Linked DNA regions of Homo sapiens. The protein of the gene in region 7 purifies or fractionates together with the protein of the main gene of each other region. This does not show direct contact. Each region holds a gene or a part of one and is shown on either strand. Other genes may lie near its edges.

Region 1 (4,971 bases), on a different chromosome or scaffold from region 7:
CCAGGGTGGCCGGGGGTGGGGTGGGCTGCCCAGGCCAGGCAGGCCTGCAGGGGGCTGGAGGGAATTAGCTGAGTGACTGCCAGGATCATCTAATTAGGAACTCTAGTGATAAGCAGATAGGATCGGGGGTGATTAGAATCCTTTTAAAAAGCCACTCCATTAATTACAGAGACAGAGAGGGGCCTCTGGCTGCTCCGAATACCAATTGGCTGCTTAATCGGCTCCATCAGCTCGCCCGGGGGAGACCTTCCTGGTACTGCTGTGTGACCTTCGGTGTGCCCTGCCCTCTCTGGGCCTCGCTTGGTCGCTGAAGGTCCTTCTCTCCCTGGCCATGGCTCGGGGTTGGCTTTAGGGTGGGCCTGAGATGAGGGACATGGGACATCTGAGGCCAGGAAGCCTAGGCTGGCTCCCCAGAGAGGGCAAATCCCCAAAAGCACCCACTGGTGAATGAGGACAGAGAGGCTTGAAGAGGGGAGGTGGCCTGACAGAATTGACGGTGGAGCGTGTGGGGCCTAAGTGTGCGCTCATGCCTGTGTGTCCCTGTCCCTCCAGCAGGCCCTATGGAGGCCTCAGAGCCCCTGATGCTCCCCACTGGCTCCCCAAAAACTGGCGTGGAAGGAGACTAGCCTGAACCCTTTGCAGAAGGGAAACTCCTCTGCACACTGCCCGGCTCCACGGTCCACAGCTCCCTTCATGGGGAGCTCCCCACAGGGGCCTCCATCTCAGGATGCCCTTGATGGTGAGGTGTGGGACCTGCTCCCAGGTGACACACCTGTTCCCGTAAGTCCTACCGAGTGGTCTGTTCTGTGTGCCCTAAGACAGCCCTGAATGGGCGGCAGTGAGGGGGTCTCCAGCCCTGTCTCCATCCTGGCTGACTCCCACAGACCCATCCCAGGAACAAGGGTTGGAGCAGGGCAGTGGCTGGAAGAAATTTCCCCTGGGAGTACAACGCAGACCAGAGCCAGGGTCTCCAACAAGGCAGGGAGGGCCAGGACGGGGAGGCGGCCACAGGATTCTTGGATGCCTCATCATACTAGGTCCTTTGTCTCTTAACATTGTTTTCACCACCCCTCCTCCACTGTCCTGATTCCATCGTCATGGAAACTTCAGGCTTCACCTTTACAATGTCAGGCCACCAACACCCTCAGCAGTGTCACCATCACCATCAACACCCCAGCGTCCCATCCCCATCTCCTCTACCACTGCCACCAGCCCCACTATCACTATCATCTCTGTCACCGTCACCACGGTGCTCTCCACCCGTGTCAGCATTGTGTCACCACCACATCACTGTCACCACACTTCCTCCACCTCCATCTCCACCCACCATCCCATCTGTGACATCACCTTATCAGCTCTGCCACCAGTATCAACCACTCACACCGCCTTTGCCATCACCACCGTCATTGCCCCCTCTACTACCACCACCATCACCACCACCGGGTCTGCCTCAGCCAGACCCACCACTGCCTCTAATTAGACTGCCACCATCATCACTGCCACCACCACTGCCCCTCCAATGCCTTCCTGATGTCACCATCTGCTTTCTCTCTGCTATCCTCACACCCAACTCCATCACAACCACCACCTTCATCTGAGCCGCCATCACCCTCACAGTACACAGCCCTCAAATGTGTACCAAGGAGGAGGACATTTACTACACGCTGCACCCTGAACAGTCTGGGACCAGCGGTCAGGGAACAAGGAATCGAGATGCTCACCTGCAGCTCCCAGGTGAGCGGCTCTCTAGAGCTTGCCTGGGAGCTGCTGAGGAGCTCACGGTATTCCAGGAAGCTCCCCATCCATGCCTCAGCCTGTGGCTCAGAAGCAGGGTCTTCGCAGAAGATTGCCCCGAGCTGTTGCAAAGCTCACCATTGTCACCTGCCTGCAACGGCCTCTCTTTTCCACTCTCCAAATCCCTTGTATTGGCAGGCTCTAGTCTGGAATTATACCGGTGATGGGATTCTGGAAAATCCCTCAGATTTCTCCAGGATGCAAGGAGACCATGGAAGAGGTTGGTGTAATGCCAAGTTAGCAACAGAAAATACAGAGCCCCACACCTCAGTGCCATCACCATCGCCATCGGCACTCACACCAGCATGTCCACCACTGTGTCCTTCTCACCCCTCGGCACCCCCCTCTACCATTGCCTCTTCCACAACCACCCTCACCACCATCCTCCATTAATAGCACAATTCCTGCCTCCTATCCCATCACCACCACGGGTGTCCCCGGCACCAGCAGCACCAACACTGCTCCCAGCAGAGCCATCGTTACCAGCCCCGCTGTCAGTCCCATCTTGAGCATCTGGCATATGTTGGAGAACTGCTCACTCCCTCTTCCCCATGGGAATCTCAGGCCTCTCTTCCTATTGCCCTGAGATTTGCAGAACCTTCCTGAAGGAAACATTCTTTGCCCCATGGATACTGGCCTTGACCATGGGATGCAGCAAGACTGCCACACATCATGGCCCAACAGAAGCTTTCAGAGGCAGCCCAAGTTCCTGCTGTCTCTGAGTGGCACTGTCATGAGAGAGGGGTGTGCAGGTCAGAGCTGATTCTCCAGCCTGGGACCCACAGTGAGAAGCTATGGGAGGTGGGGCCCTGGCAGCTGCCTGTAGGCACCAGTGAGTGAAGTGGGGGGAACTAGATGTTTGTCGTGAGCCACTGAGAGGTGGAAGCTGTCACTGTGGTATAGCCGAACAAGATACAACCTCTGCTACCTCCACCACCTTCACCTTCATCATCACCATTACTGTCACCACTGCCAACCACACCAATGGCTCACTAGGAGCCATTCCCATCACCTCCTCATCATACCTGCACCATCACTGCCAACCACAACAAAGGCTCGCTGTTACCATCTCCTCTGGCATGACCATCACCACCACCACTACCATCATCAATTACTCTCAAGCACAAGCCTTGCTGCTGTCACCACCAGCATCACCATCATCATGATCAACTCCACCATCACCCATAATTACTCTCCCCCTCACACCCACCATGACCATTACCTCCACATCAACACTGCTCCCATGGTCACCTCTACTATATAATGACACCTTATCCATCTCCATGGACACCCACCGTGCCTCTCCCCACCAGCAACACAGTCAACAGCAGTGCCTCTCCCACTGCCACCGCCATCATGGAGAACTGTGCAGGGCAAGCATCTTTCTCCCGCCCCAGGAACAAGCCTGCAAGGGACAGCAGGTGCTAACTGCTAACCGAGACATAGTGACAAAAATCCAGCCACAGAGATAAAGAATCAGGTTCATCTGTAGCTACATCCAGTGGAGAAGTTCTGCTCTTCAACTCCTCTGCTAAGCCACATGTGTCAGCAGGTGTAGGTGGGTGGATGCCCAGCATGGGGGTGCGAGTCGTGCTTTTGATAAGCTGCATGGAGGGACAGCGATGGTCACTGGAGGCTGGGTTTACAAAGTGTCTCTACAGTCTGTCTCCATTCCTCCTGGCATTTGGGATTGGTTAGAACACACACTGTCCCCTGCTAGGAGCCTGAAACCTAGCACCCATGAGCACTGAAAGAAAAGAGAGAGAGGGAGGATAATAGAAAGGGATGAAGACTAGAAAAAGGAAGAGGAGGAAGAAGGGAGGAATGAAGGAAGGAAGGAGGAAGGAAAGAAGCCAGGAGTGAAGAAGGGAGGGAAGGGAGAAGGGGGAAGGGGAGGGAGGAAGGAAAGAAAGAAGGAAGGAAGGAGAAAGGGAGGAAGGAAGGAAGGAAGGAAGGAGGAAATGAAGGAAGGAGGGGGAAGGGAGGGAGGGAGGAGGGAAGGAAGGCAGGGAACGGAAGGGAAGGGAAGGGAAAGAAGGAGGGAAGGAGGGAGGGAGGAAGGGAGGAAGGAAAGAAGGCAGGCAGGAAGGCTATCTTTAGTTAAGACTTGGTGACCCAAACATCTAGGCTCTTTATTGGTGTGGTTAGTAGGTGGTTTAGCATGGTTTTGATCTTAATTGGAGTGGGGTGAGGTGAAGGTAGGAACAGATATTAATCAGTATTGTGAATTGCTGTTTCTATATATGATCCAACACCAGAACAAGAATTAAAGGAATATAAATGCCTAAGAATATTTGGTTACCTCACTCACCTGATTCGTTTTCTAGGGCTGTTACAAATTATTACAAACTGGGTAGCTCAATACAAAAGAAATCTCTTCCCCCAGTTCTGGAGGCCAGAGGTCTGAAATCGAGGTGTTAGTGGGGCCGCACTCCCTCTGGAGGCTGCAGGGAGAACCCTCCTGGCCCCCAGCTTCCAGCTGCGTCAGTGTCCATCTCCTATACGGACATGTGTCACTGGATTTAGGGCCCACTCAGATAATCCAGGATGATCTCATCTCGACATCCTTAATTTAATTACATCCGAAAAGATCCTTTTTCCAAATAAGCTCACATTCAGAGGTTCCAAGGATTAGGATAGGAACATATCTTTTTGGGGGCCACCATTCAACCCACTACAGTCAGTAATCAATATTTATCATCAATTCCTATTTTTCTTACCAGAATTGAGTGGAACACTTCTTTGGATTTGCTGTCCGCTGCAGCCTTGGCCCTGGTTTCACATCCCCTCCCTCACTGACTCGCTGTGTGACCTTGAGCACTGTGTGTCTCTGAGCCTGGTTCATCCAAGAGTTTACCGACGGCCCTCGTGTGCCAGCCACTGTCCTAGACAGGGACAGACTTTCCCGCCTTTGTGGAGCTTACCCCGGAAGACCTGGCCAGATAATGGGCACAAAAAAAGCAGGCTCTTGTCCCCACCCCAGCCTGCCTGAACCCCACCTTGGCCTCCTCTTGCCTCAGCTGCTGCCCAGCCATCGGCCGAGTGGACATACCCAGGACGCCCTTGCCCGCCTCCCCCACCACGGCCACAGACCTTTGTCACTCACCAAGGCTGGAATCCCGTGGCTGATCCTGCCTCTGCCCTTTGGCTCCCGGGACTCAGCCCACACCACCTGGG
Region 2 (4,283 bases), on a different chromosome or scaffold from region 7:
CACTGGGAATGTTGTATTAAAAATTAAGGCCAAGCGTGGTGGATCACGCCTGTAATTCCAGCATTTTGGGAGGCTGTGGTGGGCAGATCACTTGAGCTCATGAGTTCGAGACCTGCCTGGGCAATATGGCAAAACCCCATCTCGACGAAAATACAAAAAGGCCAGGTGCGGTGGCTCACACCTGTAATCCCAGCATTTTGGAAGGCCAAGACAGGTAAATCACCAGAGCTCATGAGTTCAAGACCCGCCTGGGCATCAATGGTGAAGCCTGGTCTCTACAAAATATGCAAAAATTAGCCGGATATGGTGGTGCGCACCTATAGTCTCAGCTGTTCAGGAGGCTGAGGTAGGAGGATGGCTTTAGCGTAGGAAGTAGGGGTTGCAGTGAGCCAAGATCATGCCACTGCACTTCAGCCTGTATGATAGAGCCAGACCTTGTCCAAAAAAAAAAAAAAAAATTAAGAATAATACTGAAGGATTTGGATGTTTTTCACATCTCCCTCAATAACTCTAGTATCTGACAGGAAGTTTAAAGTAATAGTAATATTCAAGAAGGCAACGATAGTTTGTTTTGTAAGCATTTCTTTTGATTCATGTTCTGTGCGCTTTCACTTGATTTGGAGATTAGCAGATGGGAGAAATTGGTAACTTAGAGAAGCATCACAAAGAGTGCTCTCTGAACTTCTGTAACTTTTACCTAATTTTTTATACTAAAAGTTTATGATACAGGTTTTGGGGTTTGTAGCTTATTTAATCTACTTGTTTCTCTCCACAGCAAGACAGATCGGCTTGCCAAAGGATCAGAATGTTACCAAAAGAGCCTTAGTTTAAATCCTTTCCTCTGGTCTCCCTTTGAATCATTATGTGAAATAGGTAGGTGGGTGGGGTTGAGAGGTGGGTGGGTTCCCATCTCCTCTTCTTTTTTTCCTGCTACTTAATTTTTGGAGAGCAATACAGATCATCTACCCCCAAGAAAAATATTTTTCAAAGTTAAAATTGAGAATAAAAAATAAGTTAGAATCTTCGGTATGTTTCAAGAATCATATAACTGAAAATTACACAAAGATTAAATCCAGTAGATTCTTCTGTTGAACCAATCTATTTTCAAGTATCTGGTGTCCTCTAGAATGGGTTATATTGTGTGTTTAACACTAGCAAAATTGCTTTCTGAATAAGAAAATTAATAAAATTTCTAATGCAATTAATAAATGCCTGAAACTTACAAGACCTGAACAGTACAGGGAGAGAATTTCTCAGTATATTTGGCCTAGGATACATAAAGGACCATTTTTCAGCATTGTTGCATCTATGTATATATAGAAGGGCTTCAACCTTTACTGTAAAATATGATGGGTTTTAACTCTTCAACCTCATCTCCTACTTTGAGAAAAATGAGATCTAGTTATTTTCAGCTTTAAAACAAACACAGAAATCTGCATTTTTCTGCGATTTGTTATGTTTAAAATTAGTGTTCTTGTAGTTTATTTTCATTTACAGCTTTATCTTACTGGTAAACTTTTATGATATATTGATAGATGGGTTTTTTGGGGGTAAATTTGATTAGCAGAAGTGGACAGGAGATTTTTAAAGTTTGGATAAGGCCTATTTCCTGTTTCCACTGATTTATGCATACTTGAAAAACATGTATTCCTCACTTCCTCAGAGACAAACTTTTTTTTTTTTTGTCTTCACAGGTGAAAAGCCAGATCCTGACCAAACATTTAAATTCACATCTTTACAGAACTTTAGCAACTGTCTGCCCAACTCTTGCACAACACAAGTACCTAATCATAGTTTATCTCACAGACAGCCTGAGACAGTTCTTACGGAAACACCCCAGGACACAATTGTAAGTGTCTTATATTCTAGTGTTCAAAATATTATGAAAACTACAAAGAATGATCTGAACTAAATAATATATTGTGAATGACTTGGTAGAAATTTTCTGTTTCAGGAATTAAACAGATTGAATTTAGAATCTTCCAATTCAAAGTACTCCTTGAATACAGATTCCTCAGTGTCTTATATTGATTCAGCTGTAATTTCACCTGATACTGTCCCACTGGGAACAGGAACTTCCATATTATCTAAACAGGTTCAAAATAAACCAAAAACTGGTCGAAGTTTATTAGGAGGACCAGCAGCTCTTAGTCCATTAACCCCAAGGTAAGTCAAACAAGATACTTTCAAATGTGCTATAATACCAAATGATCTTATGATAACTCATATTGTTAGTAATGCAGATTATTACAACAGCAACTTCTAAATCACTGTGGAAACAGGGGCATTCTGTTTTCAGAAAATGAAGTAAAAACTGGCAAATAGTGATGTTGCCAGGTGCGGTGGCTCATGCCTGTAATCCCAGCACCTTGGGAGGCCAAGGCAGGCAGATCACCTGAGGTCAGGAGTTCAAGAACAGCCTGGCCAACATGGTGAAACCCTGTCTCTACTAAAAATACAAAAATTAGCTGGGCATGGTGGCGGGCGCCTGTAATCCCAGCTACTCAGGAGGCTGAGACAGGAGAATTGCTTGAACCCGGGAGGCGGAGGTTGTAGTGAGCCGAGATGGAGCCACTACACTCCATCCTGGGCGACAGACCAAGACTCCAACTCAAAAAAAATTGATATTGAATATTGGACTGGCCAGGCGCAGTGGCTCACGCCTGTAATCCCAGCACTTTGGGAGACCAAGGTGGGCAGATCACGAGGTCAGGAGATCGAGACCATCCTGGCCAACATGGCGAAACCCCGTCTCTACTAAAAATACAAAAAACTAGCCGGGTGTGGTGGCACGCGCCTGTAGATCCAGCTACTCGGGAGGCTGAGGCAAGAGAATCACTTGAACCCGGGAGACAGAGGTTGCAGTGAGCCGAGATGGTGTCACTGCACTCCAGCCTGGGAGACAGGGCAAGACTCCATCTCAAAAAAAAAATTGGAGGAAAATTTAAAACTCTGAAATATTCCTTAATTAGGTAGTAAACACATTAAAAAATACTGTCTTTATGGCTGTGCATTAATGGATAGCGGTGAGCCTCATGAAATGTTATAATCAGGGCACCACTGGTTACTGTTAAAGTGCCTTTTTCCAAAACATGGAGGAAATTTGACACCTACCTTTTTTTGTTTGAGACAGGATCTCACTCTGTCACCCAGGTTAGAGTGCAGTGGCACAATCATAGCTCACTGCAGCCTCAAATTCTTGGGCTCAAGCGATCCTCCCACCTCAGACTCCTGAGTAGCTGGGACTGCAGGCACATGCCACCACACCTGGCTAATTTTTTAAGTGTTTTTGTAGAGATGGGGTCTTGCTGTGTTGCCCAAGCTGATCTGGAACTCCTGGCCTCTAGTGATCCTCCTGCTGTGGCCTCCCAAAGTGCTAGGATTACCGTGAGCCACTGAACCTAGCTGTCACACCTATTAATATAAAATATTTTATCAAAATTATTAGAAGTATATGTATGTATAAATACAGGAACTCAGCCCAGAGGATACATATCCAAAAGTATCAAAATGAAAAATTATGTGCTAGAATGGGTTGGGCATGGGGGCTCATGCCTGTAATCCCAGCACTTTGGGAGGCTGAGGTGGGCAGATCACTTGAGACCAGGAGCTCAAGACCAGTCTGGCCAACATGGTGAAACCCTATCTCTACTAAAATTACAAAAATTAGCCCGGCATGGTGACACATACGTGTAATCCCAGGTACTTTGGGGGTTGAGGCACAAGAATCATTTGAACCCAGCAGGTGGAGGTTGCAGTGAGCTGAGATCATGCCACTGCACTCCAGCCTGGGCAACAGAGCGAGACTCTGTCTCAAAAAAATATATACATATATGCTAGAAGAAATTCTATGAATCAGGTCCTGAGGCCGGGGAACTACTAAAATAGCATGACCATGAGATTACAACTCTGGAGAGTTATAGTTATCTAATGGTCTCTAGAGACATTTTCTCTGTAGTTGTGTCTAAATCCCATAAATTCCAAGAATTTGAAGTAATCTCATCATTTGGATCTTAGATTTATAAAGCTACTCTTCTTTATTTCTAATAAATCTCCTGAGATCAGTAATTGTTGCTCAGTTTAGTTCCTTGTTTGATAGCTTTTTAAAATTTTAGTTATGGTGGGTGGAATAGTCTACATTCACAGCTTATTTTTAATCTGCCCCTCAGATCCTCACTGTCCCTAAGACTGATTTGCCATTCTCTTCCTTTTAGACCTTCTAATTTAAGTATACTGCTGCTTTATATATGCCTTGATGACTTTTTGACACCTTGATTTCAACC
Region 3 (4,283 bases), on a different chromosome or scaffold from region 7:
GGAATGCAGTGGCGCAATCTCGGCTCACTGCAACCTCTGCCTCCCAGGTTCAAGCGATTCTCCTGTCTCAGCCTCCCGAGTAGCTGGGATTACAGGCACATGCCGCCATGCCCAGCTAATTTTTTGTATTTTAGTAGCTCACTGCAGCCTCTAACTCCTGGGCTCAAGTGATCCTCTGGCCTCATCCTCCCAAGTAGCTGGGACTACAAGCACATGTCACCACCCTTGGCTAATTTAAGCAATTTTTTTAGAGACAGAGTCTTGCTGTGTTTCCCAGGCTGGCCCCAAACCCCTGGCCTCAAACCATCCTCCTCCTGCCTGAGCCTCAGAAGTAGCTGGGATTATAGTCACGAACCGCTGGGCCCGGTGTGGCCTATTTTTGTACAGACAAAGCTAAGAAAGGCTTTTACAGTTTTTGAGAGATTGATTAGGGAAAAAAACTAAAACCCAATCCACAAACAACAATAATCAGTTGAGACCACAGTGTCCTGCAAAACCTGAAATATTTACTCACTGGCCCGAGGCAGGGGAAGCTTGTAGACCCCTGGGATAAATGAATGAGGCAGGCAGGAGTTGGGGTCTGTGGGGAGTTTGGCCCCAGCCAAAAGAGAAACCAAAAAATCCTCAGGCCGAATAGAGCATACTTCTGAATTGTGTGAGCCCCTTGTGCCAATTGTGGCGCTTACTGTATGTTACCACTTACTCTGAAAAGAGTTCTGTGAGGTCAGAGATACCAACCCCAATTTACTGGTGGAAAAACAGAAATGAAAGAACTTGACTGGCCAAAGTGATGTGGTTGGCAGGCAGCAGAGATGGCTTTGGCATTCTGGGTGACTGGATGCCCACCTTAAATGCATATATAAGTGGTTCAGTGACATTTATCTGTTCATCACAAAGACCCAAAGTAGCAGAGGCTTAATTAAACACGATGGCATTTTATTTTTTGTGCTCTAATGCTAAAGTGTGAAGATTGTCAGGTGCCAAAGTCTCCTGGGCTCTTGGAAGTTCCCAGATCCAGGTCCTCCCCCCGGCTTTTTTTTTTTTTTTGAGATGGTGTCTCGCTCTGTTGCCCAGGGGCTGCAGTGCAGTGGTGTGATCTCAGCTCACTGCATCCTCTGCCTCCCGGGTTCAAGCGATTCTCCTGCCTCAGCCTCCCAAGTATCTGGGACTACAGGCGTGTGCCACCACGGCTGGCTAATTTTTGTATTTTTAGTAGAGACGGGGTATCGCCACGTTGGCCAGGCTGTTCTCAAACTCCTGACCTCAGGTGATCCACCCGCCTCGGCCTCCCAAAGTGCTGGGATTACAGGCCACTGCCCCAGGCTGATCCTCCACCATTCTTAAGGTGAGGTCTTGTCCTCAGGTTTCAGCATGACTGCTGGAGTCCCGCCATTACACCCTGGCTTCCAGACAGCAGGACAGAGGAAGGGACAAAGGAGAAAGGGTGCAAAGGTCACATCCAGGTGTTTGTTAAGAAAGGTTCCCGGTAGCTGATGCAAGGTGCTTCAGCTTTCATTTTGTTGGCTAGAATGTAGTCACATGATCACTGCCAGCTGCAAGGGATGCTGGGAAATGTAGTTTTCAATCTGAGCGGCCATGTGCTCAGCTGAATTTAGGGTTCCAGTTTCCATGGACAAAGAGAGAACATACAGGGAGTCACCTTGGCCACAGTGGGTAGGATCTGGACCTGGCCAGAATGTTGGGAAGGACGTTTCTGGGTTATGGAGAGGTGCTCCAGTGGGCCAGGGCTGGAGACAGCCACCTGGCTTGGAGCACAGGGTCCCCTGTGAGGAGTGGAGGGGCTAAAAGTGGAAACAGGGCTGGGTTGGAATCGAGGATTTTTTTGGTTTTTTTGGAGATGAATTCTCGCCCTGTCACCCAGGCTGGAGCACAGTGGCTCAATGTCATCTCACTGCAACCTCTAGCCTCCCAGGTTCAAGTCATTCTCCTGCATCAGACTCCCAAGTAGCTAGGATTATAAGTGCGTGCAACCACACCCAGATAATTTTTGTATTTTTAGTAGATACGGGGGTCTCACCCTTTTGGCCAGGCTGGTCTTGAACTCCTGACCTCAAGTGATCCATCTGCCTTGGCCTCCCAAAGTCCTAGGATTACCGGCATGAGTCACCGCACCCAGCCTCAGGTGAAATCTTAATGGAAGGTGTCCAGTGCTGTGAGCAGCTCCTGGTCACCAAGCACTGGCCCTCTGTGTAGGGGGTCTGGATGAGATGGGTGGGCAAGGCCTTTCAACAGAAGCTGGAGTGTGGTGTGAACTTGCTAATGACTTTGAGATGCCAAGCCTCACACACCTCAGACCAGGTTGGATTTAGCAGGTGGAGAGGCTCAGGAAGACCTCTGTGGCAGGTGTGTCTCCTTTCTGCGGAAACCTGCTGCTTCTAAGGTCTGCTGGAGAACCTGGGAGGTGGTGAGTTTGCAAAGACATCCAGGGAAGCAGCCACTTAAGCGAGGGCAGGATGGAGGGGCCCACCTGGGCCACACCTGGCTGCTTGAGGTGGCGAGTTGAGGCTGGGAGGGGTTTCCATCAGTTCCATCAGCTCAGAGCTAGGATTTTTTTTTCTTCTTTTTTTGAGACAGGGTCTTGCTGTGTCACCCAGGCTGGAGTGCAGTGACACGATCATAGCTCATTGCAGCCTTGAACACCCAGGCTCAAGGGATTCTCCCTCCCTCAGCCTCTCTACAGGCTGGGACCACAGGCGCACATCACCATGCCTGGCTAATTTTTTTTTTTTTTTTTTTTTGTAGAGACAGGGTCTCACTATGTTGCTCAGGCGGATGTGGAACTCCTGGGCTCAAGCGATTCTCCTACCTTGGCCCCCAAAGTGCTGGGATTACAGGTGTGAGTCATGGCAGCCACGGCTCCAGAGCTCGGGTTCTTAATCTGGTCTGTGGATGGCCCCTGGGGGCGGTCCCATGAGCCCCTCACAATTGGACACAGTTTTGCAAAGGGGTAAAAGGACAAGAATCGGTAGCTGTGACTGTGGATGAGCCTCTGAGCTTCACTTTCCCTCCCTGAAAGGGGGTGACAGTGGCACCTCCCTGGAGGTTTTCGTGGAGGGGAGGAAACACATGTAAAATACTTCACCCCAGTTGGGCACAGAGGCTCATGCCTGTAATCCCAGGTTTTGGGAGGCCGAGGCAGCAGGGCGGTTTGAGTCCAGGAATTTACAACCAGCCCGGGAAACACAGTGAAACTGTATCTCTTAAAAAATAATTTAAAAAAATTAGCCGGCATGGTGGCACATGCCTCTAGTCCCAGCTATTCCAGAGGCTGAGGCGGGAGGATTGCTTGAGCCCAGAAGCTTGAGGCTACATTGAGCCATAATCGTACCACTGCACTCCATCCCGGGAAACAGGGCAAGACCTTGTCTCTAAAAAAAAATGCTTCTTGCTTGATGACTTGTGATATATGAAAAGGAAGAAAGAAAAGAAAAGCTTTGCCCTGTGTGCCTGGCCCGAAGTAAGTGCTCCATAAATTGGCCGTGGTGTAGCTGTGGATTCTCTGCACATTTTTCTGTGCAGAACCTCCCCTGATTTCGGTCAGCTTCTCAGAAGGATCTGTGACTGAAAAAGGGTACCAGTTCCTGGAGGACAGCACCTGATTGGGGAGTGGAGTCTGCCCTGGCTGGTAAGGGATTGGGGGCTCTCTGCGCAGGGCCAGGACATCTCTCCAGGGACAGGCGAGAAGCTTTGAAAGGGCAGGAAGGAGAGGGCAGCAAGGTCAGATGCCGTGAGAGGTCAGAGTGAGAGCCAAGGGGCGGTCACTGGATTTCTGAGCAGGAGGTCACAGGTGACCTCAGAGAGCAGTCCCCTGGAGGGCTGGGGTGGGGGAGGGGCCAGCCAGATGGCAGGTCTTGGGGGAGGTGACAGTGGAGCTGCAGAGAGAGCAGGGGGGACGGTGACCTTTCCCAGCCCACTGAGACCCACTCTTTCATTCATTCAGCCAGAAACAGGCAGCGAAAGTGGACTCGCCGTCTCCATAGTGCGGTAGCTCCCATCCAGCCAGCTTGAAATGGTCAGCAGAAATTCACCAAGCGTCTGCTGTGCACCAGTTACTGTTTTAGGAGCCCAGGGATGTGGTGACACCCGAGATAAACACAAGGTCCCACATTTGCAGGCCTGGGGACATTGTCTGAGGAGCGCTAAATCAGCAATCACTTAAAACAAGCTGAGGGGCTCCAGGATGCTGGGGGAGGGGCTCTGCTTAGAGGGAGGCTGAGGGCAGAGTCGTGCTTGTGGTAAGAGCTCTAGCAGGGGCCAGCTGG
Region 4 (4,133 bases), on a different chromosome or scaffold from region 7:
TTATTCCCATCTTTAATAAATTGAGATGTAGTGTGATCAATTTAGTGAGCATTGGCAGCATTTTGTAAATGGAACAGACAAAAAACCCTACTTAAGTTAGATTGATGATCACAATAACTTTGTAGTGAATAAGTGATGGAAAGAAATGAAACTACTGATAGAAGTAAATGAAACAAGGATTATATGAAACTTTGGCTTCATCTCTGTTAAAATACCTTCTTTTTTCCCAATATTGCAGTCTACCATTTCAATATTATAAAAATATTTATTCTGGCTTTTCATAGATTCCACACTGTCATCCATAAAGACAAAATAGACTTAAATCATGATTAGGGTGATAAAATGAGGAGAAAATTTTACCTGGATGAATTTCATGCATCAAACCCATTGCAGAGAATTACTTAAGACCCTGTTGGGGATGGCTGTTCGGTTAAAGAGTTTATTTACATTTGCCCTGATAGTCTTTGAGCAAAAGATGAAAATAGCTAAGTAAGGATGATGTGTTTTACTTTATAGGATACACAGATAAGTATGGGAATCTACTTATATGTGAATCATGGCAAATATTTAAAATGAGCCATAGGAATCAAGTATCCACTGGGGCAAGCAGACATTTTAGGGTATTGAGTGCTGAAAGTAGTGAACACATCAGAGCTATAAGATAAGCATCATAGCAGTGGGGAGCGGGTACCATTCTGAACTCAGGACAGTTGGAAATATTCTCTCCCCATCCTTGGGCTATAAAATCCACACGTGAGGAAGCCATCACAAGTATATTGAAATCATCACAGCAAGCAGCAGTGTCTTTTTTAAAAGCTGTTCTTTTCGTATTTGATGAAATATTCATTCTTCTATTTAATGGAAGAATTTTAAAAATGTTTTTAAAACACTTTCTTTCTTATAAAACTGTCCCATTAAGAGCCAAGTGTGGTGACGCACCTATAGTCCCAGCTACTCTGGGGCTCAGGCAGGAAGATCACTTAAGCCGAGGCGTCCAAGGCTGTAGTGCACTACAGCTGCACCTGTGACTAGCCACTGCACTCCAGCCTGGAAAACATGGCAAGACCCCATCTCAGACAAAAACAAAAACAAAATAAAACTATCCCATTAGTAAGACAATGTTGACTTACAAATGTAAAGGTATTTGTGGTAATAAGAAGGTGGATAGAGTTGAAACAGTGGAGATAAGGTCTAAAAGCAATCCAGTTTGCTTTGAAGCAGAAGCGACGTATGAAGCGGGAAGTCACAGGACCCTTGGAAGGCAGTGCATCTGTGTGCCAGCCTTTCCTATTTCTTCTGCCTGGAGCACTCTTCATCCAGACAGCCCTGTGGCTTCTTACTTCAGAAATGCTGTATGAGGCTTTGTATCATTACACCCAGCACCCAGCACCCAGCATGTCCCTGTTTCCAGAGCTATTTTTCCTAATAGCACGTATTACCATCAAATATTCCCCACCAGTACTTGTTTGTTTGTGTTTGGTTTATCTCCTCCTACTAGAATAGGGCCTTTGTTTGGTTCACAGTGGCCCATCCTATGAGCTCAGTAAATATTCGAACATATTTCCTTTAACACAAAAAATAAAAGGATTCTAGAATCTGTAAGCCTCCAGCCCCCAGTAATTCTGTCAGCAGTTAATAGTGTTGCCACTTTAAGTAAATATGATTATTATTTATTTTTTCCATGTAAAGAATAGTTTACAGTTTTTACTACTCTTACTTGATTTACCTTTTCCACACTGAATTTGTTTAGATTTTTTGGAAACAGATTTCTCGTCCATTAAGATGCTTTGAACTAAGTGTTCTTGAACATTTAACCAAAACTGTAGGTGTTCTCTATTTAAAAAAAAAAAAAAAAACAAAGACAGAAAAAAACCTCTGCTTCTACACTTTTCTGTAGGTAAGGTGTTCTGCATAGAATGGCACTTATTTTCAAGGACAGAGATAAATAACATTGATTTCCAAAAGTTTTATGTTGTCCATAATACTCAGTGTGTTTAAGAGTAAAATTGATTGTTGGTTGTTAAGAGAATAAAACTTATGTTCCTTGAATTTTGGCACATTCCAATATTATTTTTTCAATGCTGTGGATTAAAAGGCTGATTTCTGCAAGTCCTACACCCCTAACCTCCTATCCCAGAGAAAATAAAACAGGCACCTAGATTTCAAATGTGAGCCATAAGAGCAAATACTTTTTGATAAGTATAAGTATGAAGGAGTTGAACTCTGTTCAAGTAACTCAGAGCCCTTTTTCTTTTTCCTTCTAAAGAACTTCTTAATCTTCCATCCTCAGTAATTAAGAAGAAAGTTCATTTCAGTGGGGAAAGTAAAGAGAACATCATGAGGAGTGAGAATTCTGAGAGTCAGCTCACATCTAAGTCCAAGTGCAAGGACCTGAAGAAAAGGCTTCACGCTGCCCAGCTGCGGGCTCAAGCCCTGTCAGATATTGAGAAAAATTACCAACTGAAAAGCAGACAGATCCTGGGCATGCGCTAGCCAGGTAGAGAGACACAGAGCTGTGTACAGGATGTAATATTACCAACCTTTAAAGACTGATATTCAAATGCTGTAGTGTTGAATACTTGGTTCCATGAGCCATGCCTTTCTGTATAGTACACATGATATTTCGGAATTGGTTTTACTGTTCTTCAGCAACTATTGTACAAAATGTTCACATTTAATTTTTCTTTCTTCTTTTAAGAACATATTATAAAAAGAATACTTTCTTGGTTGGGCTTTTAATCCTGTGTGTGATTACTAGTAGGAACATGAGATGTGACATTCTAAATCTTGGGAGAAAAAATAATGTTAGGAAAAAAATATTTATGCAGGAAGAGTAGCACTCACTGAATAGTTTTAAATGACTGAGTGGTATGCTTACAATTGTCATGTCTAGATTTAAATTTTAAGTCTGAGATTTTAAATGTTTTTGAGCTTAGAAAACCCAGTTAGATGCAATTTGGTCATTAATACCATGACATCTTGCTTATAAATATTCCATTGCTCTGTAGTTCAAATCTGTTAGCTTTGTGAAAATTCATCACTGTGATGTTTGTATTCTTTTTTTTTTTCTGTTTAACAGAATATGAGCTGTCTGTCATTTACCTACTTCTTTCCCACTAAATAAAAGAATTCTTCAGTTTCCCTGTAGTTATGTGTCTTGCATTTGTTGGTCTCTTAGTTGATGGGAGTTGTGTTTATGATTTGTAGGTCTTCATTGTAGGGTACAGAAGGAAACATGGATCTGATGCTCAAGGGAGTGGCATTCCAGTCCTAAACTGTATGGCGCTTTACCTCCCATCTCATTAATCCATGTATGTAAGCCAGTGGTCCTTAACAGGGTGATTTTGCTCCTCAAGAGACGTTTGGCAATGTCTGGGGGCATTTTTGATTGTCATGATTTGGGGTAGGGTGCTACTGGCTGCTAGTGGGTACAGGCCAGGGACACTGTAAACATTTTACAATGCACAGGACAGCTGCTGACAACAAAATGTCCATGGGTTTGGATCATAATCCTGAATGATACAATCTCAAATGCGAAAATCCTGAAAGACCAAAATCCCTAATGTCTTAAATCCCAAAAGATCAGAATCCCTAATGTGTGAACTTCCAAAATCACAATCCTGAAAGATTAAAATCCCAGATGTTAAAATCCTGAAAGCCGAATTTGAGGTTAGGGATTAGTGCCGTTTCAGCTGTATACAGGATAATTGCATCATGTTAGGCAGAACTATTACCTTGTTATTGTCTTCATTTGGAAATTAAGTATGGTTTAAGAGATGTGGATGGATATCGAGTTGATAAGGGGTGAACTTGTTGATTTATGTGTCAACTTGACTGGATTAAGGAATCCCTAGAAATCTGGTAAAGCATTATTTTAGATGTGTCTGTGAGGGTGTTTCCAGAGGAGGTTAATATGTGAGTCTCAGTAGACTAGGTGGGGAATATCTTTCCTCAATGTTTAGTGTTTTGAAGATCATAAAAGCGACTTTTCAGGTGAAAAGTACAAGAAATCTCTCCTGCCAAATTATTCAGTTATGTACAAATTCTGCTCCTTCATGAATAGTGCCACGCTTGCCTTAAAAAAATGCCCTTTGTCAGAGAATAAAATTCGACAAGCTGAACGACCTTGTGAA
Region 5 (4,283 bases), on a different chromosome or scaffold from region 7:
CCTGGGTCAGGTAGTTAAAGGCTCTTGGAGGGCCTTCCCTGCCCAGGACTAGTCTTGAGTGTGACATTCTCTCTGACCTACAGCTGAAAGTGCCCACTACGGAAAAGCCAACAGTGACTGTGAACTTCCGAAAGCTGTTGTTGAATCGATGTCAGAAGGAGTTTGAGAAAGACAAAGATGATGATGAGGTTTTTGAGAAGAAGCAAAAAGAGATGGATGAAGCTGCTACGGTGAGAGAAAACCCACTATCGATTCCACTCACCACTTACCTCCTTCCCTTACCCAGATGCTACTCAGCTGTAGAATTTGGAATGGAGGTAGTGGTGTCTTGGGGATTTCTCTGGCTCAGGACGTTTTTTTTCCTTTTTGAGACAGTCTTGCTCTGTCACCCAGGCTGGAGTGCAGTGGTGTGATCTTGGCTAGCCTCCACCTCCTGAGTTCAAGCGATTCTCCTGCCTCAGCCTCCCAAGTAGCTGGGATTACAGGCATGTGCCACCATACCTGGCTAATTTTTTTGTATTTTTAATAGAGACGGGGTTTTACCATGTTGGCCAAGCTGGTCTCAAACTCCTCCTGACCTCAAGTGATCCGCCTGCCTCAGCCTCCCAAATTGATGGGATTACAGGCATGAGCCACTATGCCCAGCCAGCCGGCCTCAGGACTGAGTGCTTATTGCTAGGTTTGGATATCCAGGTAGAAAAGGGTTTTAGCCGAGTGGCTGGTTATCTTTTTGACACAATCCCTGTCCTGTGAATGGCAGGCAGAGGAACGAGGACGCCTGAAGGAAGAGCTGGAAGAGGCTCGGGACATAGCCCGGCGGCGCTCTTTAGGGAATATCAAGTTTATTGGAGAGTTGTTCAAACTGAAGATGTTAACAGAGGCAATAATGCATGACTGTGTGGTCAAACTGCTTAAGAACCATGATGAAGAGTCCCTTGAGTGCCTTTGTCGTCTGCTCACCACCATTGGCAAAGACCTGGACTTTGAAAAAGCCAAGGTAGAGGTCCTTGCATCTGGAGGGGGATGGGCTGAAGCATATGTGGGGCTCACTGAGCCCACAATGATGGGGCGGAAGGCCTGAGGAGGGGTGGGGCCTGCAGTTATAGGTGGGACATGAGAAGTTCCTGGTCTGATGCCTTTCTCCTTCCTAGCCCCGAATGGATCAGTATTTCAACCAGATGGAAAAAATCATTAAAGAAAAGAAGACGTCATCCCGCATCCGCTTTATGCTGCAGGACGTGCTGGATCTGCGAGGGGTGTGTGTCCCCCTCCTCCCCACTGCCAGCCTGCTGCCTCCAGTTTCTGACACTGCCTTGTCTTGCCTTCCCTGACATCATCGTGACTGGCCCTCTGTCTCCACAGAGCAATTGGGTGCCACGCCGAGGGGATCAGGGTCCCAAGACCATTGACCAGATCCATAAGGAGGCTGAGATGGAAGAACATCGAGAGCACATCAAAGTGCAGCAGCTCATGGCCAAGGGCAGTGACAAGCGTCGGGGCGGTCCTCCAGGCCCTCCCATCAGTGAGTTCCAAGCTGGGATTGAGAAGGGAGCAGTGAAGGGACCGGGAGGTTATACTTTCCTCTGATGACTTCCTGTTAGTGCCACGTGTCTGGGCCACTGAGACACCATGATGGAACTGAGGATCTGAGGAAGGGAGGCTGGGGGTGGCCCAAGGGGAAGGGGCTGCTAGGATTTATTCATTATTCCAGTATGCCCCTCTTTTTGTGTCAGGCCGTGGACTTCCCCTTGTGGATGATGGTGGCTGGAACACAGTTCCCATCAGCAAAGGTAGCCGCCCCATTGACACCTCACGACTCACCAAGATCACCAAGGTAGGGGTGTGTGTGGGAGTGGGTGATTCAGCTCAGGTTTAGATCTTAGTCCCTTCACTTTTCTAAAGTTGAGAAGGTGACAGCTGAATGTTTCCTCTTAGACTAACTGGTTGGATTGCTGGAGACAGGACTGCCAGCTGTAGAGGGAGGGTGGTACTCCCATTAGTCTGGACCAGTGTTTGGCAAACACACACACACACACACACACACACACACACGTGCCAGATCCAGCCCATTCATACATCCCAGGACCCAGTAGTGGTTTTTACATTTTAAAGTTGCGAAAAATCAAAAAGTGAATGGTAATTTATGCTGTGGAAATTAAATAAAATGTAAATGTCAGTGTCCATGAAGTTTTATTGGAACACAGTCACAGCATGCCTTTATCATCTACAGCTGGTTTCATGCTACTGTGGCAGAATTGAGTAGTTGCAATAGAGACTGGCCCTTTATTAAAAAAGATTTTCTGACCCCTGGACTGGGCCATTCACTACCTGTTTGGTTGCATATGGTGGTGCTGGCCAAGGGACTCAGCCGGGTTGGACCTATGATTCTACTCCCCTTTTCTTCTTCAGCCTGGCTCCATCGATTCTAACAACCAGCTCTTTGCACCTGGAGGGCGACTGAGCTGGGGCAAGGGCAGCAGCGGAGGCTCAGGAGCCAAGCCCTCAGACGCAGGTATGGAGGCAGTGTCAGGAGCTGGGTGGTTACCCGTCAGAGCTCCCTTGAGGACAGAGCCTTTTCTGTTAGGGAGGCCTTCAGTACAAGGTGGTTAGGCAATGCGGGCAATAGAGGAGGTTTGTGTTGTGGTTCCAGGGATTGAACTGCTTTACTTTTGGGACTGGGACCAAGTGTCCTAAACTGGCAAGTAGGGGATAAAATGCAGGAAAGGAGAAAAAGATTTTAATACGGATTTTCTGCATCCCCAGCATCAGAAGCTGCTCGCCCAGCTACTAGTACTTTGAATCGCTTCTCAGCCCTTCAACAAGCGGTACCCACAGAAAGCACAGATAATAGACGTGTGGTGCAGAGGTGAGGTTTCCTGGACATCTTTGTTATTCACACTGGGGGTACCGTGATTGGGTTCTGGTTGTTGCCATAGGTTGGAAATTTCTTCATACCTGTCCTGGTTGGAGCCCTTGGGTTAGATTGGGGCATACTCATTATGCTAAGAACAAGGCCCAACAGTTGCTCAGCATGTTGTGTAATTACATGAGTGCCTGGGCAGTGCAAGTGAGTGAAAATTTGTCTGTCTGTCTTCCAGGAGTAGCTTGAGCCGAGAACGAGGCGAGAAAGCTGGAGACCGAGGAGACCGCCTAGAGCGGAGTGAACGGGGAGGGGACCGTGGGGACCGGCTTGATCGTGCGCGGACACCTGCTACCAAGCGGAGCTTCAGCAAGGAAGTGGAGGAGCGGAGTAGAGAACGGCCCTCCCAGCCTGAGGGGCTGCGCAAGGCAGCTAGCCTCACGGAGGATCGGGACCGTGGGCGGGATGCCGGTGAGAGTCTGGGAGAGGAATGGAGGGAAAGGCATTGGCTGCCTTGGGACTAGCTGGTCCCCAGCTTTTTGAGAGCTCCAAATCTTGTTTGCTGGGAAGACTGAAAAGTCCCTCTAATCTGTGTTCTCTTCCCACAGTGAAGCGAGAAGCTGCCCTACCCCCAGTGAGCCCCCTGAAGGCGGCTCTCTCTGAGGAGGAGTTAGAGAAGAAATCCAAGGCTATCATTGAGGAATATCTCCATCTCAATGACATGAAAGTAGGCAGTGGGAGCGGCGTGTGATTGAGGAGTGGGCAGGGAGGGATCATGCTGGCAGGCATAGGGGTCCGGGGTCTGGGTCAGACAGTGACTGGTCTCTTCCTGCTGTGCCCTGCACCCCTCAGGAGGCAGTCCAGTGCGTGCAGGAGCTGGCCTCACCCTCCTTGCTCTTCATCTTTGTACGGCATGGTGTCGAGTCTACGCTGGAGCGCAGTGCCATTGCTCGTGAGCATATGGGGCAGCTGCTGCACCAGCTGCTCTGTGCTGGGCATCTGTCTACTGCTCAGTACTACCAAGGGTATGACCAGCTTCTCTGGGCCTCCCACTTATACAGACCCACAATTTTCTATCTCCTTTTTGGGACCCTTGGAACCTTGCATAAGAGTGTAGGTTCCCTGGCCGGGTGTGGTGGCTTATGCCTGTAATCCCTGCACTTTGGGAGGCCAAGGTGGGTTGGATTCCTTAGAGGATCACGTGAGGTTGGGAGTTCTAGACCAGCCTGGCCAACATGGTGAAACCCTGTCTCTACTAATAATACAAAAATTAGCCAGGCGTGGTGGCACAGTAATCCCAGCTACTCGGAGGCTGAGGCAGGAGAACTGCTTGAACCCGGGAGGTGGAGGTTGCAGTGAGCCGAGATCGTGCCATTGCACTCCAGCCTGGGTGACAAAAGCAAAACTGTCTCAAAAAAAAAAC
Region 6 (4,927 bases), on a different chromosome or scaffold from region 7:
CCACTAATTTTGTTTATTTTTTGTAGAGAGGAAGTCTCACTATGTTGCTCAGGCGGGTCTCCAATTCCTGGGCTCAAGTGATCCTCCCACCTCAGCCTCCCAAAATGCTGGGATTACAGGCCTGAGCCACTCTGCTCAGCTGACATTTTCAATCTTGTTATTAGATCACTCTTCCTCTTTTCTCTGAGCTCTGATAACTTTCCAAATTGTACTCATATCCACAGAGGCAACAACTTTGGGAGTTAGATTAATATCCAATCTTCCGGACTACACTGGGTCAAAATACAGCCTGACAAGTTTTTGAATTGTTTTTGAACTTAAGCAGTAAGGGACCAGGTCCAAATCTCTAAGTGAATTCCTGGTGGGATTCAAATAAAGTATACAGACAACTTAGCCATCTTTTGGAGAGCAGCTCAGTCTTTATTTCCCATCAGTTCAGAGTAGAACCCACGGTGAACTGTTTATATATCTCACCTAAGATTTAAAACTCTAATCTATTTTACCTACACCCTGATAAATGCTCTATTCAGTTGCAAATGCTTTATACTTTATATTTTGAAGTCAGGTGCTGAGCAGAGCACCCAAGCAACTGCCAGAGTGAGGACAGCTTCAAAAGGTAGCCACAGTGTGACTTCTAAGCTGAATATAATCAAACGAACTCCCTTTCATCCTGTTTTCTTCCAAACTCTCAGAACTACTATCGTTCCACACACAAAACAGCCAGGGTTGAAAACTGGAGCACAGAATTAGCATAAAGCTAACTTTAAATAAGCAGTTTTCTGCTGAGGTGGAAGGATATACCTAAGTAATTTCTAGCTCTAAAGATTTAGGTTAAATTTTGAATGCTACCAGCAAGTGGTAAATGAGAGTAAAGCAAAACTAATAAACCCTAGATGGTAACTGCTCTCAGGGCAGGAATTAACTGATCACCAGAACCAAACATAACACCTGGCCTATAGTAAGGAAGTAGTTGTTCACTTCAGTAAATGTTTGCTGAGTGAATTAAATATTTCACAGAAACCACAGATTCCTTAAAGGTCATCTAACCCAACTTCCCCATTTTATATATGAAAAAATAAAACTGAGGTGTAGAGACAATTTTAGCTTATCTGCTGTGACATTTTGAAGCAATGGCTTGTTGGTATGTTATTTGTCATGTGCAACGTAAAGCAGCATAATGGGTAAGATTATGAAGCCTCTCTGAGTTCTGGTTTTGCTACTTACTTGCTGCATGACTGTGGACACATCATTTAACCCATTTATGCCTAGTGTTCCATTACTGGAACGCTAAGCATGTGGGAGTTATTTATACCCTACTGCTCAAGGTCATCGCCAAGGTCTGATGCCAAAAATGTAAAAAATTGCAACCTCCGGCATATATATATATATATATATATATATATATATATATATATATATATATATATATTTTTTTTTTTTTTTTTTTTTGAGACAGAGTTTCACTCTTGTTGCCCAGGCTAGAGTGCAATGGCACGATCTTGGCTCACTGCAACCTCCGCCTCCCCCTCCGGGATCTTTTTGTTCCTTAGTTGTCTTATCTGCAAAATGGGAAACAGGTTGAGTACCCTTCATCCGAAATGCTTGGGACTTGGAAGTATTCTGGATTTCGGATTTTTTTTTCAGGTTTTGGGATATTTGCATTATACTTAATGATTAAGCCTCTCAAATCCGAAAATCTAAAATTCAAAATGCTCCAATTAGCATTTCCTTTGACCATCCTGTCAGTGCTCAAAAAGTTTTAAATTTTGGAGGATTTTGGATTTCTGGATTAAGGATACTCAACCTGTAATAACGGCACCTACCTCACACAGGTGTGACAAAGATTAGTTAATACACGTAAAACACTTGGAACAGTTACAGGCTTAGTAAACACTTCATAAATCTTGGCTATTCAAAGTCATTAACGGAGAGTTACTACTGAGTCTTTTTTCCTATGCAGATCCCAGGTTTTCATACTTACTATGAAAAAACCTCATGGGAAAAGTATTAATTCTCTCCATCTAACAGAGTCAGCAAGCTCCCACAGGAGAAAGAATCTGTTCAGGAGGAGGGCCAGTGCCTTCTATTAAGCACTTTACACTTTCCTTTTTTTTTTTTTTTTGAGACGGATTCTCGCTGTCACCCAGGCTGAAGTGCAGTGGCGCGATCTCGGCTCACTGCAAGCTCTGCCTCCTGGGTTCACGCCATTCTCCCGCCTCAGCCTCCCGAGTAGCTGGGACTACAGGCGCCCGCCACCACACCCGGCTAATTTTTTGTATTTTTTAGGAGAGACGGGGTTTCACCGTGTTAGCCAGGATGGTCTCGATCTCCTGACCTCGTGATCCGCCCGCCTCGGCCTCCCAAAGTGCTAGGATTACAGACGTGAGCCACCGCGCCCGGCCTACACTTTCATTTTAAGGTTCAATGATCTTAAGAAACACCCTGCCACCTTCGAAAAGTCTTTCTACCCTCAATGCCGAGCACAGAACCTGGGGCAGTGTTTCCACTGTGCTTCCAGTCCCGAGCATTTCGGATGAATGAATGATGAACAAACGACAGAACGCAGGGCGAGCAGCTCAGCAAAGGTCATGCAGGAGATAGAGAAGCGCTGTGTCATGAGTATTGGATCATTATGGATTTTTTTCTTTCTCATTGTGCAGATCTATTCGCACAACTCTATCTTCAACCAGTTTGCCAGGCCCACCGGAGGTGCCCAGTAAAATTTTGTCAAACAAATACTGATGATGAAGTATCCTGGGACTTGGCCCTGTCAGGTAAGTTGGGGCTGACAGTGGAGATCCTCACAGGAGAGTAACGATGCTTTGTGGACACAGATTGCTGTGTCCGAGCTAAGATGCTTAAACATTTACTTCATGTACGGCAGGGATGACCTCGCATTCATATATTTATGAATATAAATTCCTTTCCTTTCTAACAGATATATGCCTATTTTCTTAAAAAGAGTAATTCCTTAAAAGTTCCTACCCTAGTACAAAGGCAAATTATTACAAGTAATCATTAAATTCCATCATCAACAAATCGTTCCACTTCAAAACAGCTGGATTACAACCCAAACCAAATAGATGCCGCAGCTGTAACGGGGGGGGGGGGGGGCGGGAACGGGGCGGGGGTGGGCGTGGAGAAAAAGTGGCCAGAGAGGGGAGCGCTCAGAACACCAGCGGCTCCCAAGCTAACTCCTAGCCACTTTTCCCACCCAGCTGGGTCCCCAGGAAACTACGCCATCGGCGCTGTCCCACTGCGCAGGCGCCAGCCCTCGGCCCGCATGCGCACTCGGTCAAACCCGGCCTGGGGAAATTTCCTATCGCACGTCTGCTGCAGCAGTCTCCTGTTTCTCCTCCTACCTTCTCCATTTTTCTAGTCCCTGCAGGTAGGATCCTGGGGGTTAACTCCCTTTTCACCAAGCTCCCGAGGGCCCTCGACCCCTCGGCCTCTTACCTCAGCGGCTTTAGCACTTTCCCCTACAGCCCCACCCCCAGGACCAGCCTGAGTGGCTGCGCTCACCACGACGAGGACCGCGGCGTGTTCGCCCCCCAACAGACGGAGCCAGCGGCGAAGGCGGCGTGCGCGCGCCCGTGCCGTGGTGGGCGTGGCCGGGGCGGAGACGCGAGGAGGGGAGCAGAGAACGCGCTCGCGTAGAGGAATTCCGGGTCCTCCTCCTCGCCCTACCTTGGTTTACCTGCAGCCGCCTAGTCCTCTTCTCCTTCTCTTTGATGATTCAGGGCCTCGGCTTCCCTCACGATATTGCAGAAAGACACAGCTTTCCTCTTCCTCTCCAAACCACCTCGAAGCAGGGTTAAGTTGGTTATTCCTCTCTTTCCTTCCGAGCAGTCTCGTAGCGCAGGGCCATGTAGGACAGGTAGATGCTGCATTTGCTGTCTCCGCGACAACTGCCTGTTCTTCCGGAGCTCGTGGTCTGAGGGCCCGACTTTCATCTTAGTCTGTTTTTGTGGGGAACATTTTTTTTTTAAGCTTTTCCTTTGAAAGTCTTTTTTCGTTGAGAACTTTAGAGGCCTCGGGGAATAGGCCACTGGGTTGTGATGTCATCGAGTATTGCTAATGATGTGCCCTTTTCCTCCATCCATGTCGGTTTACCTTCTGTGTTGTTATTTCTCACGAAACCTCTTCTTGGTTCTGTAAGCGCACAACTCATCAATTATTATTTTATTTATTTTTTTGAGACGAAGTCTCGCTCTGTCGCCCAGGCTGGAGTGCAGTGGCGCGATCTCAGCTCACTGCAACCTCCGCCTCTCAGGCTTAAGCCATTCTCGTGCCTCAGCTTTCCCAGTAGTTGGGACTACAGGCGCCCGCCACCACACCCGGCTACTTTCTGTATTTTCAGTAGAGACGGGGTTTCATCATGTTGGCCTGGCTGGTCTCGAACTCCTGGCCTCAGATGATCCGCCTCGGCCTCCTAAAGTGCTGGGATTACAGACGTGAGCCACCGCGCCCACGTTGGCTTGAACATTAGTGTATTTAGTAAGGATCAACTTGTTTTCTTTGGAACTTTTAAGTATTTTGGGCTTCAAGACTATCTAAGCTGTACGTGGTAGGAATATTGGTTGAATTTAACCTCAGCTAGCCTGTAAGGAACCTTTGTTTCCTAAATTATTGATTCATTAAGTGATGTGACCAGAAGCTTGGCTTCGCAGTGAGCGATGTGCATTTTGTTGGGCAGTGGCCTGTGGAAATTGGATTCCCCCCTTCAGCAGTATGTTGGTCTGAGAACCATATTGGTTAAGTTGTTATTTTAACTGTGCTTTAACAGACAACTGGAACTGATTGTTTGGTATGAATTTCTAGCACCTCTAAAAGTACTTAGGGGCTTTTTTTTTTCTGGATGGTTAAGTGTATTAAATATCCCTCATTGTCTTAATTATCTTGCTAGATAGAAAGAGTTTGCTGGGCG
Region 7 (3,824 bases):
TTCATCCCAAGAGACTTTAGTGTTCTCTAAGTATCGTAATTTTTGCTTTCTAAAAACTCATATATTATTAAGCATGAGCTTTAAAGTATGGCTTAAACTTCAGTTGTAACGAATCTCATAAAATGCTAGCATGCTGAACTTTGACTCTACAGTCAGCTCACTATTGAGTTAGTCTTTCCACTAAAGACAGTTATCTAGTGGGTTTTACCTTGTTTTAGAGTAACTTAGGAAGCAGGGACAGTCATGCCCTAAAGTGAAACCAGTAGAAAACTGGCCTGTTTCATTTATTACCAACATGAGTTTGATTATACTACTGTGACTCTAGCTTCTGAAACAGCAGTTGCTCAAAGTGGGAAGCCTTTTAAGTGATTTCATTCCATTTGGATATTCTCAGAATGATAGAGTTGTTTGCCTTTTCGAACTTGTTTTCACAAAGGTATTTAGGTAGAACTTTCTAACATCACTTACTAGTAATCAGGAAGGTCATTTGCCACATAAAAGGCAATACCTTATTTTATTCCCTGTAATACTTTGTGAGTGTTGGCATTTATTTTTTTTTTTTATTTTTATTGTTGAGACAGGGTCTTGCTCTGTCGCCCTGGCTGGAGTACAGTGGCATGATCACAGCTCACTGCAGCCTTGACCTGCCAGGCTCAGGTGATCCTACCACATCAGGCCCCCTGAATAACTGGGAATACAGGCATGCGCCACCATGCCTGGCTAATTTTTAAATTTTTTTGTGGGCCGGGTGCGGTGGCTCATGCCTGTAAACCCCAGCACCTTGAGAGGCCGAGGCAGGCGGATCACGAGGTCAAGAGATTGAGACCATCCTAGCTAACATGTTGAAACCCTGTCTCTACTAAAAGTGCAAAAATTAGCCAGGTGTGCTGGCATGCGCCTGTAGTCCCAACTACTTGAGAGGCTGAGGCAGGAGAATCGCTTGAACCCAGGAGGCGGAGGTTGCAGTGAGCCAAGATGGCGCCACTACACTCCAGCCTGGCAACAGACAGAGACTCAGTCTAAAGAAAAAAAAAAAATTGTGGAGACAGATGGAGTGTCACTATGTTGCCCAGGCTAGTGTCACACTCCTGGGCTCAAGCAATCCTCCGCCTTGGCCTCCCAAAGCACTGGGATTTACAGGCATGAGCCACTGCGGTCAGCCTGATGCTTGGCATTTAAATGCCCACAGTTCAGCAGCAAGTGGTGAAGAATGGTGGTAATTCCAGTGATTTGAGTAGCTGAGCCATTCTTCTATTAAGTAACTTTGGATAAAACATCATTTCACTCTCTTAGAGAAAGTTATCATCTGTTATCCTTACAGTCAGGTAGTGGCTGTTATGGGATAAGTGTCTGTTTTTGAAAATGATCAAACTAAGACATACTTTCTGGATTCTGCAGTCACATGTGACTTAGGAGCCAAACCTTTTATCTGAAAACAAAATGAAGCCACAAAACCCAGACCTTTTGATAAGATAGCATAAAACCTTCTTGAGTTACTTTTAATCTCATGGGATCAGTCAGGCTATAGATTTTTGGTGGTTATTTCTTTACCCAATTTATTTTTCTATTCTCTAGAATAATAAATTTGTTGAAATGCCCTTTGCTCTCACTTGTCTGCTCTTACAGCTTTCCAATTGTAGCTTCCTGTTGTACCACCACACCCCAACTCCTTACCTCTTGTCTCTTTGGCAGTGTAGACTTCTCTCTGTCATAGGTCATAGCCCTGATCACCCTATAATCGTCTGTTTGCCTGTTTCCCTATTAGACTGTGACATCCTGGAGGGTAGGGGTTACATCTTTTGTTTTTTTTAAGACAGAGTCTCGCTCTGTCGCCAGGCTGGAGTGCAGTGGCACCATCTCAGCTCTCTGCAACCTCCGACTTCCTGGTTCAAGCGATTCTCCTGCCTCAGCCTCCCAAGTAGCTGGGATTACAGGCATGCGCCACCATGCCCAGCTAATTTTTGTATTTTTAGTAGAGATGGAGTTTCACCATGTTGGCTAGGGTGGTCTCGATCTCCTGACCTCGTGATCCGCTCGCCTCAGCCTCCCAAAGGGCTGGGATTACAGATGTGAGCCACCGTGCCCCGCCAAATTTTTGTATTTTTAGTAGAGATAGGGTTTCACCATGTTTGCCAGGCTAGTCTCGAACTCCTGACCTCAAGTGATCAGGGGTTACAACTTTTAACACCATATCCTCATTGTGCCCCTAAGTACTCCAAACCTAGGATTTCAGTTTATTGTTCTTTACACCCTAACTCTATCATTTAGCCCATGCCTAGTACATGGTAGGTGTTCTAAATAAACATTTGCTAATTGAAAGAATGTTGCCTTAATCCTAAAACTTTTATACTTTCAGACCCGTAAGAAACAGAAGGAAGATGTGGAAGTTGTAGGAGGCAGTGATGGAGAAGGAGCCATTGGGCTTAGCAGTGATCCCAAGAGCCGGGAACAAATGATCAATGATCGGATTGGTTATAAACCCCAACCCAAGCCCAATAATCGTTCATCTCAATTTGGAAGTCTTGAATTTTAGAGATGGATTATCTTGCATGCCAGAGCGCTGGAATGGAATAAAATGATGGCAGAAGTACAAACCAGATTTAGAGAATTGAGTGCTTGCAGTCAAGCAGAATGTACCTCCTGCAGAGACAAATCTTCTGCATGAGATTACTGATGCTTCACTTGCACTCTAAGCTGGAATCCAAACTCTGGTTTGTCTCTTGAAAATTTGACTCTATAAAACTGATCTGATTTTCTGTTTTTAAAAATAAATATATTTTTGGAAAAATGTGAGGCATCCTTAATGAAGTATAACAGTACTGTTAATTCCCAGACTTTAAAAGATAATTGCTACAAGATTAACATCATTCTTTCCATCTTTATTAAAAGACCCTAAGCACAGGACACTCTAGTTGATCCCTGCCACTTTCACTTAACCCATCTATTCAATAAGTATTTATTGAGTGTCTACCATGTGCCACTCAACAAAGATCCCTGCCCTTGTAGAAATTAAATTCTAGTGGATATTGTGTAAATCTGAAGAAATTGTAGGTACCCGATCTCTTTACAGAATGGCTTTGTAACTAGTTTGGGTATAATGTTGGGAGGACAGGCAATGGAGGAAAGAGGAATGCTTCTAACAGTTTTGCCATTATTCCAACTTTCCTTCCTTTCTCAACTTGCCTAAGTGTTTTTCCCAGAAAGAACCAGAGAGGCAGCTCGGAGGATAATTTTGAATCATGCCCTATTGTTCTGGGCATTAAAAAAAAATTTTTTTTAAAAATTTTTATTGTTTTATGTAGAGACAGGCATCTGTGTTGCCCAAGCTGGGCTTGAGCTCCTGACATTAAGCAGTCCTCTCAAAGTGCTGGGATTACTGTGCCTGGCCTGTTTTCACTAATTCAACACAGGGAATCACCAGCTGTGATCATAAGAGCCTCTTGAATCATCAGTTCTACGGAGACTCTTAGCAGGACTTTAGCCTTTTTGGGGTAGTTTAAGTCTGAGTAATACGAGGGGGAGAGGGACAGGTGTGGTGGCTCATGCCTGTAATCCCAGCACTTCGGGAGGCTGAGGCAGGAGGATTGCTTGAGTCCAGGAGTTAGACCAGCCTGGGCAACACAGGGAAACCCTGACTCTATAAAATTAAAAAAAAAAAAAAAAGAAGGGCCGGGCATGGTGGCTCATGCCTGTAATCCCAGCACTTTGGGAGGCTGAGGTGGGCAGATAACCTGAGGTCCAGAGTTTGAGACCAGCCTGACCAACATGGAGAAACCCTGTCTCTACTAAAAATACAAAATTAGCCGGGCGTGGTGGTGCATGCC

Evidence for each region.
Region 1: the proteins of CDC26 (region 7) and DNAJB8 purify together in Homo sapiens (co-immunoprecipitation; one large-scale study listed by IntAct). This does not show direct contact.
Region 2: the proteins of CDC26 (region 7) and CDC27 purify together in Homo sapiens (affinity purification with mass spectrometry; 12 studies listed by BioGRID and IntAct, with this or other methods). This does not show direct contact.
Region 3: the proteins of CDC26 (region 7) and CARM1 purify together in Homo sapiens (affinity purification with mass spectrometry; one large-scale study listed by BioGRID and IntAct). This does not show direct contact.
Region 4: the proteins of CDC26 (region 7) and NEK2 purify together in Homo sapiens (affinity purification with mass spectrometry; 3 studies listed by BioGRID and IntAct, with this or other methods). This does not show direct contact.
Region 5: the proteins of CDC26 (region 7) and EIF4G1 purify together in Homo sapiens (affinity purification with mass spectrometry; one large-scale study listed by BioGRID and IntAct). This does not show direct contact.
Region 6: the proteins of CDC26 (region 7) and ANAPC16 purify together in Homo sapiens (co-immunoprecipitation; 5 studies listed by BioGRID and IntAct, with this or other methods). This does not show direct contact.

What each region holds. Positions count from the first base shown.
Region 1 is NC_000003.12:128,463,657-128,468,627, reverse strand, and holds the start of DNAJB8 (dnaJ homolog subfamily B member 8), read left to right. Parts: upstream 1-1,737; 5' UTR 1,738-2,014; intron 2,015-3,191; 5' UTR 3,192-3,352; intron 3,353-4,514; exon of another isoform or gene 4,515-4,517; 5' UTR 4,518-4,971. UniProt on the Homo sapiens protein: Efficient suppressor of aggregation and toxicity of disease-associated polyglutamine proteins.
Region 2 is NC_000017.11:47,154,796-47,159,078, reverse strand, and holds part of CDC27 (cell division cycle protein 27 homolog), read left to right. Parts: intron 1-775; coding exon 776-873; intron 874-1,694; coding exon 1,695-1,849; intron 1,850-1,954; coding exon 1,955-2,166; intron 2,167-4,214; exon of another isoform or gene 4,215-4,283. UniProt on the Homo sapiens protein: Component of the anaphase promoting complex/cyclosome (APC/C), a cell cycle-regulated E3 ubiquitin ligase that controls progression through mitosis and the G1 phase of the cell cycle.
Region 3 is NC_000019.10:10,877,776-10,882,058, forward strand, and holds part of CARM1 (histone-arginine methyltransferase CARM1), read left to right. Parts: intron 1-4,283. UniProt on the Homo sapiens protein: Methylates (mono- and asymmetric dimethylation) the guanidino nitrogens of arginyl residues in several proteins involved in DNA packaging, transcription regulation, pre-mRNA splicing, and mRNA stability.
Region 4 is NC_000001.11:211,661,786-211,665,918, reverse strand, and holds the end of NEK2 (serine/threonine-protein kinase Nek2), read left to right. Parts: intron 1-2,266; coding exon 2,267-2,493; 3' UTR 2,494-3,147; downstream 3,148-4,133. UniProt on the Homo sapiens protein: Protein kinase which is involved in the control of centrosome separation and bipolar spindle formation in mitotic cells and chromatin condensation in meiotic cells.
Region 5 is NC_000003.12:184,324,118-184,328,400, forward strand, and holds part of EIF4G1 (eukaryotic translation initiation factor 4 gamma 1), read left to right. Parts: intron 1-83; coding exon 84-230; intron 231-760; coding exon 761-997; intron 998-1,151; coding exon 1,152-1,256; intron 1,257-1,362; coding exon 1,363-1,522; intron 1,523-1,578; exon of another isoform or gene 1,579-1,654; intron 1,655-1,733; coding exon 1,734-1,834; intron 1,835-2,409; coding exon 2,410-2,512; intron 2,513-2,763; coding exon 2,764-2,866; intron 2,867-3,098; coding exon 3,099-3,331; intron 3,332-3,468; coding exon 3,469-3,587; intron 3,588-3,712; coding exon 3,713-3,885; intron 3,886-4,283.
Region 6 is NC_000010.11:72,214,668-72,219,594, reverse strand, and holds the start of ANAPC16 (anaphase-promoting complex subunit 16), read right to left. Parts: upstream 3,584-4,927; 5' UTR 3,457-3,583; exon of another isoform or gene 3,319-3,456; intron 2,775-3,318; coding exon of another isoform or gene 2,742-2,774; exon of another isoform or gene 2,461-2,741; intron 1-2,460. UniProt on the Homo sapiens protein: Component of the anaphase promoting complex/cyclosome (APC/C), a cell cycle-regulated E3 ubiquitin ligase that controls progression through mitosis and the G1 phase of the cell cycle.
Region 7 is NC_000009.12:113,265,972-113,269,795, reverse strand, and holds the end of CDC26 (anaphase-promoting complex subunit CDC26), read left to right. Parts: intron 1-2,356; coding exon 2,357-2,533; 3' UTR 2,534-2,804; downstream 2,805-3,824. UniProt on the Homo sapiens protein: Component of the anaphase promoting complex/cyclosome (APC/C), a cell cycle-regulated E3 ubiquitin ligase that controls progression through mitosis and the G1 phase of the cell cycle.